Homo sapiens: one gene and its partner. The protein of the gene in region 2 interacts with the protein of the main gene of each other region in a biochemical or structural test. Each region holds a gene or a part of one and is shown on either strand. Other genes may lie near its edges.

Region 1 (3,750 bases), on a different chromosome or scaffold from region 2:
CCAGTCCACTTGGAAACTGGTGTTCCATAGGGTTTGCCCTGCCTGACCCTAAGCCCCTTTGCAGGGCTACCCCTTGGCTCTGGCAACAGGAGGCTGAGTTGTTTCTCCACCATAAGGTCAGCTTTGCATGTACCCAGGACACAGGCACATTCTCTTGTCCAGGGCAGGCCTTTGCAAAATAGCTGGAGTTTGGGCTCAAGCAAGGACCACAAGTCAGAAGAGACAAGAAATGTCTAAAGAGGGATTCACGTGCCTGGCTTCTATCAGTCTGACGGACCAGGCAGGTTGATGGAAGAAGCTCTCTGGGTCCCTCCCCAAACAACATTTAATACGCAGCTGAAGGACTGAATGACAAACTTTATTAGAAACGCTCTTCATTCATCAGTCAAATTCACATTAAGGTGGGGGCAGTGGGGTGGGGAGGAAGAGGCAGTGCTGTCTGGGGCTCTGATATCCCACTGCTGTGATGATTTCCAGTTAAAAATGAGTCTGGGCAGAGAGTGTCTGAAACATATAAGAGGTGGCAGCAGCAGTGGCGGCGGAGGCAGCAGCAGCATTCCTGCGAGAGGACCAGGCTCGGAGCAGGTAGAGAATGTGTCTCCCATATCCACCCTTCCAGTCACAAGGCTGCCCCCATGGACCTCAAGCTGATAAATAAACAGCACATCACACACACATTTGAAACAGGAAACAAACTTGTAGAAGTCTCCTAAAGTGAAAAAATAATTTGCTCAAATAAAGCTTTGTGACAGCCATGCCGCACCCTGAATGGACGTTGCCCAGAGACCCTGACACTCCAGGAAGGCCCCCCAACCCAGGACACATCAGACTTGGGTGTCACAATGCCCCCAGTTCCCCCGTTAGCACCTTTGGACTAAGTACTGTCCTCTCCGCATTCCTCTTTTAAAATGCAAATGCTACTTAAAATAATGGTAAGGATATGCTCTTCCCTGGGGCAAACCAGTCAGACTCATCTTCCCTGAAGAGAGGTGTCTGGGCATCCAGAGAACTGTGAGTCAGTGGCTGGGAAGGGGAGCACGTGGAAAGGGGTAGGTAAACAACGTTCAAAGAGGTAAGCCGGAAGGTGTCTCCACACTGCACTGTCCACTTGCCAGGTCTGCGGTTGGGCCTCCTGGGAACAGTCTCTCAAAGTGGCACAGAGTCCTAAAACGGTGTGACAATCCTGCCGCCCTGGCAAGGCGTATGGGCCAGGAGGGGCACGGCGTCAGGCTTTCATCATTCATTATTCAGAGGCAATTTTCCCCCTGCACTGGCTAATTTCTCCCTGGCCCTGTCTGCAACGGGGCACACAATAGAAAGTCTCCTGCCTAAATGTTTTATTCATTCTCTTGAATAAGGAAACAGGCTCTCTGATCAATACGGTGGCTGCTGTGTCCTGGTTGGTGGCAGGATTTCCAGGAGGTGCAGACTCCAGGCTCTCTGTGGCTCCGAAGGAGGTGTCTGACTTGGGAGGGCTGCCTCGAGGGCAGTAGATACTGTTGGCAAGAGACCTTTCGTTTCCAAAGTTGGTACCACATCCTGGTCTTTGAAAGAACTGAGTGTCCTGGGGAGCCAGGAGAAGGGTAGATCCTTTCCCCTATGTGCCATGGGACTGTGAATGACAGGAGGGTCGGGCCCTGCGGTGTGTGTCTGTGTCTGTGCTGCCCATCAGGCTTGGCTCACTGGTACTGCAGATAGTTTTTGAGAGACTGAGGCAGGGGCAGGGAGCTGATGTCCTGCAGGCGCTGGCGGCCCAGGGCCGAGCGGATGGATCTCCGGCACAGGTCCATCAGTGGCAGGGGCTCGGCTGCAATGAGAGGGAAGCAGTTAGAGTGTGCCCTGTGCCATCCTGGCACCTTCTCATCCCAGCCCCCACTGCATACCGCCTCCTGCCTGCTCCTCTGAGCTGGCCTTCAGGGTCAATGGCTTCTCCTTGGAGAAGATTTCTCTGGTTACATAAGCTGAAGGCCTAGAGGAGTGTTCATTAGACTGTGGAATGCAACCAGTGAGACTAAAGAGTCACAAAATCAATTCAATGGGTGGTGACCAGCCATAATTTTTTTTAAAAAAAGAGAAAATGGGAGCAATACCCATAGCAAGGATAAATATTGTTTCATGAAAGCCTTGTCTCTGGTCTCTGATGTAGGTGTTCAGCGTGTCTTTTTTTTTTTTTTTTAGATGGAGTCTTGCTCTGTCGCCCAGGCTGGAGTGCAGTGGCACAATCTGGGCTCACTGCAAGCTCCGCCTCCTGGGTTCACGCCATTCTCCTGCCTCAGCCTCCCTAGTAGCTGGGACTACAGGCACCCGCCACCAGCCCGGCTAATTTTTTGTATTTTTAGTAGAGACGGGCTTTCACTGTGTTAGCCAGGATGGTCTCGATCTCCTGACCTCGTGATCGCCCTTCTCGGCCTCCCAAAGTGCTGGGATTACAGGCGTGAGCCACCGCGCCCGGCCTGGTGTGTCTTAATGTGAAAAGGACTTCTCACTTCAGGTCATGATGGAAAATGTTTAAAAGCTGGTGGCCTTGGGTGGATCTGCAGAGGGGTTTCCTCTACAAACAGGTTAGATTCTGAGAGGCTGTCTGAAATGCCTGTGAACCCTGAAACTTCCCCTATAGCTTTCCTTGATGGTCAGCAGCGGGTTACATTTTCTTCCAGCACCTAGTTCTGGAAAAATTTGTAAGTTAAAATCCATAAATAATGGAACCACTGGACATAGGACCAGTTAAACCAACTTTAACTAGGTTTATTGCAGACCCCCTTATTAAGCTCTTATTCTGGTCCAGGCCCTTTGATTAGCCCTGGGGATACAGGGATAACTAAGCTAGCACCAGAGGCAGCTCTGGAAGAGGGTGGGGGCAGGTAGGGGGGTGGTGGAGGCTCATGATCTGGGATTTTAAATAGGTGAATCATTTTAATAGAGTGTAATATATGCAATAATTCTTAAATATACAGGTACAGAAACTGGGAATTTCTTATATAGAAGAGCTGTTTGAAAGCTTCACAGAGAGGACACATAATGGGGTTTTGAAGAGTGAATAGGAGGGTTAAAGGCACATAAGGGTGGGGAGGGTATCCTAGGCAGAGAGAACAGGCAAAGGCAAAGGAGGAATAAAACAGGACAGCCTGGAGGTTTGTGGGGAGAGGAACAGTGCTGATCAGTTAGCATCAGCTGGAAGGAAGATGATGATGGTGGTCACATGGCATCTGGTATGGTTTGTACAGGCCTGGTTTCCCCAGTCCTCCAGGAGTATGCTGGAAGCCTGAACCTGCATCTTAATACTTTTTTGGTAATAGAATAAATGATATTTCATAAACATCCTATAATGTACTAAGATACAACAAAACTGTTGAGTGGTAAATACTAACACAAGAGTTGTGATAGGAATAGTACCACAGAGAAAGGCCCTCTACAGATCCACCCGAGGCCTGCAGCTTTCAAACATTTTTTTATCACAACCTGCAGTGAAGTACTTTTTACATGGGAATGTAGTCAAGAGTCGAGAATATGTTTTATAGGAATTTTTATTTACCTGAGCTGCAGAGTTAATAAGGGGAGCCATTAAAATTAAAGTGGGGCTTGGGGAGCATGCTTTGGAAGCTGTGCACAAGAGTACATCCAGCTCTCCTTCACTTGAGGCCAGATCCCAAGGCTATCTGCAGGGAGCACTAGTGACTCCAAACACTCACCTCTGTATCCTCTTTTTTATCTTTTTTTTTTTTTAATTTTTTGTATTCTCTTTTTAAAATA
Region 2 (3,750 bases):
TTTAAAATATCTCCCAAAACGTAATTATTGTTTTCAATTTTCCATACAAGCGTCTTTCACTGATATCAACCACATTTGCCCAAGTTTGCTTTCACCTGAGGAAGTCCTAAATCATTGAGATTTAAATTAGGTCATTAATATTTTTACATCTATTTTAGCTTTTAATTATCAAATTGCCTCAAGCTATTGTATCCTATACGAGGCTTAGGTTGTCTCTTATTCCCCATATAATAGTTAATAACAATCACATGGAGATAAACACTGACACAGACTGTATAATTTAGAACTCTCACCACAGTGATTTTCAACTTTGATAAAATCCGTAGCATTTAATAACTAAACTTTAAATGTTATTACCTTCTCAAATATGGGAACATAGGAAGACATATGAGGGTTGATTTCTGCTTCCCAATCTTCATCTCCCATGGTGGCTTCAAGTTCTATTCATAAAAAAAAAAAAATGCACATTTGGACTCAATTAGATCAGAATCATAACTTTAAAAGCATAAACTCATTGTTTCACATACATCTTGAAACTACCCAACTAGGTGCTGATACCCCAAAAGTTTTTTCCAAAGAAGGAATTAGGTCTCTTCTTATCTAAAGGTGGCATTTATCTCCATCCTTTCTTAGCTTTAGAAACTAGTTGAACCTCTTACCTAGTCATTCTAGCAATCGCCATGTCCCCAGCAAGACTTAGGCTTTTCCCAAACATCTGTTCATAGACTTTATCTCCTCCCTCAAAGGGTCCCCAAACGACTTACTGAATATTAAGGGAGAGGCAACTTTTTTCAGAAACTACTTAAGATTTCTCCCTTCGCATGATTAACATCCAAGGTGGATAGGATGTTTGCTTTGGGGTGTTTGTGGCGTGCGTGGGGGCGGGGACAGGGGTACGGGAGTCGACTGGGTAGGGGGGCGGCGACTCGGTGAAGAGGGAGGCCTTGGATTTTAGTGGGGAAGGGAAGAAGGGTATGGTTGCCCAAATCCTGCCGACAAAGGACAACCAGCTTCATCAAGAAGGATTTGTACACAAATGGTACTCGGACCATGTCTGTTCAGAGAAAACGCAGTGAAGAAGCCAGGAATAAGGCCCCTTCGCCTCCTCTGCAGGCCTCAAGCCCAGACTTTGGGCACCCGTGGGACTCTGAGACCCCGAGGCAGAAAGGCTTCGAAGGACGGCTTCAAAACTCCTCCTACTCCATCCACACTTTGGCCAAAGGTCGGTTACTGGGGAGCCCGTACGGCCGAGTTCAGGCCAGTTCCCGTAGAAAAGCGGCCCACTCACCTCTCCGCGGCTTGCTCTCCCAAGCCCTCGCAGGCGCCCACGCGACTTAAACGGCTGCACGTGCAAGACGCCCACTGCGTCAGGTGCGTGGCTCCAACAACAAATGGCGTCTGTTGACGATTGGCTGGTGACTAGCGCCACCAGCCAATCAGCGCTCAGACGACCAGTGGCGTCCCGCCTCCACTTCTAGCCTGCGGATTCCCTAAACGCTAGCGTTCGGGCCCCTATGGCGACGCTCTGGCCTCATAGCCAAGTGGCCTGTTGGGCCTGTGGGTACAAGGCTGGCTGAGGGCCTACTTGTGTCCACGTTCTCTCGTGGGATCCTTATTCTGGAGACGCTCTGGATTTTCCTTGTGCAAGCTTCGCAAGCTAAATATGTCCACCTGCCTTTTTCTAACAAAAAATAATAATAAAAGGGGAAAGGGATAATGTCCTCCCTACTTGGCCTCTTTAGTGCTCTCTCCCCTTTTACCCATCACAGTCCATGGGTTGGCCCCTCGGGTTCTGCATTTCAGAGACTCGCTCCACATCCGGGGATTCCAGGTGCCTCAAAGTGCAGCTGAGGCTCATGGAGGAGGTGCATTCCCTTTTCCTCCCAGTAAGGGGGGCAGGGATGAGACTCCGTCCAGCTGGGACCCCAGGAAATCGTAAAGAAAGTTAGACTCGGCTGGGCATGGTGACTCACGCCTGTAATCCCAGCACTTTGGGAGGCCGAGGCGGGCGGATCACATGAGGCTAGGAGTTCGAGACCAGCCTAGCCAACATGGTGAAACCCCGTCTCTACTAAAATTAAAAAAATTAGCCGGGTATGGTGGCGGCTGCCTGTAGTCCCAGCTACTCAGGAGGCTGAGGCAAGAGAACCGCTTGAACCCGGGAGGCAGAGGTTGCAATGAACCGAGATCATGCCATTGATCTCTACCTGGGCGACAGAGTGAGACAGAGGAAAAAAAAAAAAAAAAAAAAGCCTGTAAGATTTCGGGGGTCCACCACTTTGGAAGGAAACAGGCTCTGATCCAGAAGGAGGGAGGAAATTGGTGCTGGCATAGGTCATTCATCAAGGCTTGGATTTGTGGCCCACCTGTTTATATTCCTACGGGCACTAGCCAAAGTGGCCAAGGGTTATTTTGATACTTCATGCTGTCTTCAATCAGATTTTCTTGTTCTGCCCCCACCCCCCACCCCAAAAGCAGGTAAAATCCCTCAGTATTTCCCCAGCCCTTCAAAACGCGTGACCATGGGCTGTTTTAAAAGTGTAGTTCTCAGAGGCCGGGCGCGGTGGCTTACGTCTGTCTGTAATCCCAGCACTTGGGGAGGCCGAAGCGGGCGGATCACGAGGTCAGGAGATGCAACCATCCTGGCTAACACGGCGAAACCCCGTCTCTACTAAAAATACAAAAAATTAGCCGGGCGTGGTGGCGGGCGCCTGTAGTCCCAGCTACTCCAGAGGTTGAGGCAGGAGAATGGCGTGAACCCGGGAGACGGAGCTTGCAGTGAGCCGAGATCGCGCGACTGCACTCCAGCCTGGGCCTCAGACCGAGACTCCGCCTCAAAAAAAAAAAAAAAAAAAAAAAGTGTAGTTCTCATTTTTGTTGTCGTTTCTGTCATTTTCCCTTCTCTGAATCTGAAGAAATTCCTATCTCATTCAGGAACATAAATAGCAACACAGTTTGATACTGGTACATAAAGGATAAAGCACTTAATAGGCTCAGGCTTGCTTCATACTTTTTATCTCTAGAACCATCACCACCAAGAATTTCAGGATTCATCTAGTTAGCAATAAACTTTGTCAGACTATTCTCAAGATGATCAAAATGAATATATTTTTTATTTATTTATTTATTTATTTTTGAGACAAGGTCTCACTCTGTCACCCAGAGGGGAGTGCACTAATGATCATAGCTTACTGCAGCCTCAACCTCCTGTGCTCAAGTGATCCTGCCACCTCAGCCTCCCGAATAGCTGGGACTACAGGCACAAGCCACCATGCCCAGCTAATTTTTAAAAAAAATTTTGTAGAGAAAGAGTCTCCCTGTGTTGCCCAGGCTGGTCTCCAATTCCGGGCCTCAAGTGAGCCTCCTGCCTCAGCCTCCCAAGAGTCTCCCTGTGTTGCCCAGGCTGGTCTCCAATTTCTGGCCTCAAGTGAGCCTCCTGCCTCAGCCTCCCAAAGTGCTGGGATTACAGCCATAAGCTGCCACACCCAACCTTAAAAGATTATATTTAGGCTGGGCACAGAGGCTCACGCCTGTAATCCCAGCACTTTGGGAGGCTGAGGCAGGTGGATCACGAGGTCAAGAGATCAAGACCATTCTGGCTAACACGGTGAAACCCCGTCTCTACTGAAAATACAAAAAATTAGCCGGGTGTGGTGGCACGCACCCATAGTCCCAACTACTTCGGAGGCTGAGGCAGGAGAATAGCTTGTTCAAACCCAGGAGGCAGAGATTGCAGTGAGCTGAGATCGC

The links. The genes of interacting proteins can lie anywhere in the genome.
Region 1: the proteins of DDX4 (region 2) and SPSB4 interact in a test that uses a peptide from one of them, tested with the Homo sapiens proteins (one study listed by BioGRID).

Annotation. Positions count from the first base shown.
Region 1 is NC_000003.12:141,145,199-141,148,948, reverse strand, and holds the end of SPSB4 (SPRY domain-containing SOCS box protein 4), read right to left. Parts: intron 1,808-3,750; coding exon 1,680-1,807; 3' UTR 338-1,679; downstream 1-337. UniProt on the Homo sapiens protein: Substrate recognition component of a SCF-like ECS (Elongin BC-CUL2/5-SOCS-box protein) E3 ubiquitin-protein ligase complex which mediates the ubiquitination and subsequent proteasomal degradation of target proteins.
Region 2 is NC_000005.10:55,735,640-55,739,389, reverse strand, and holds the start of DDX4 (probable ATP-dependent RNA helicase DDX4), read right to left. Parts: upstream 1,330-3,750; 5' UTR 1,289-1,329; exon of another isoform or gene 1,050-1,288; intron 441-1,049; 5' UTR 427-440; coding exon 358-426; intron 1-357. UniProt on the Homo sapiens protein: ATP-dependent RNA helicase required during spermatogenesis. Required to repress transposable elements and preventing their mobilization, which is essential for the germline integrity.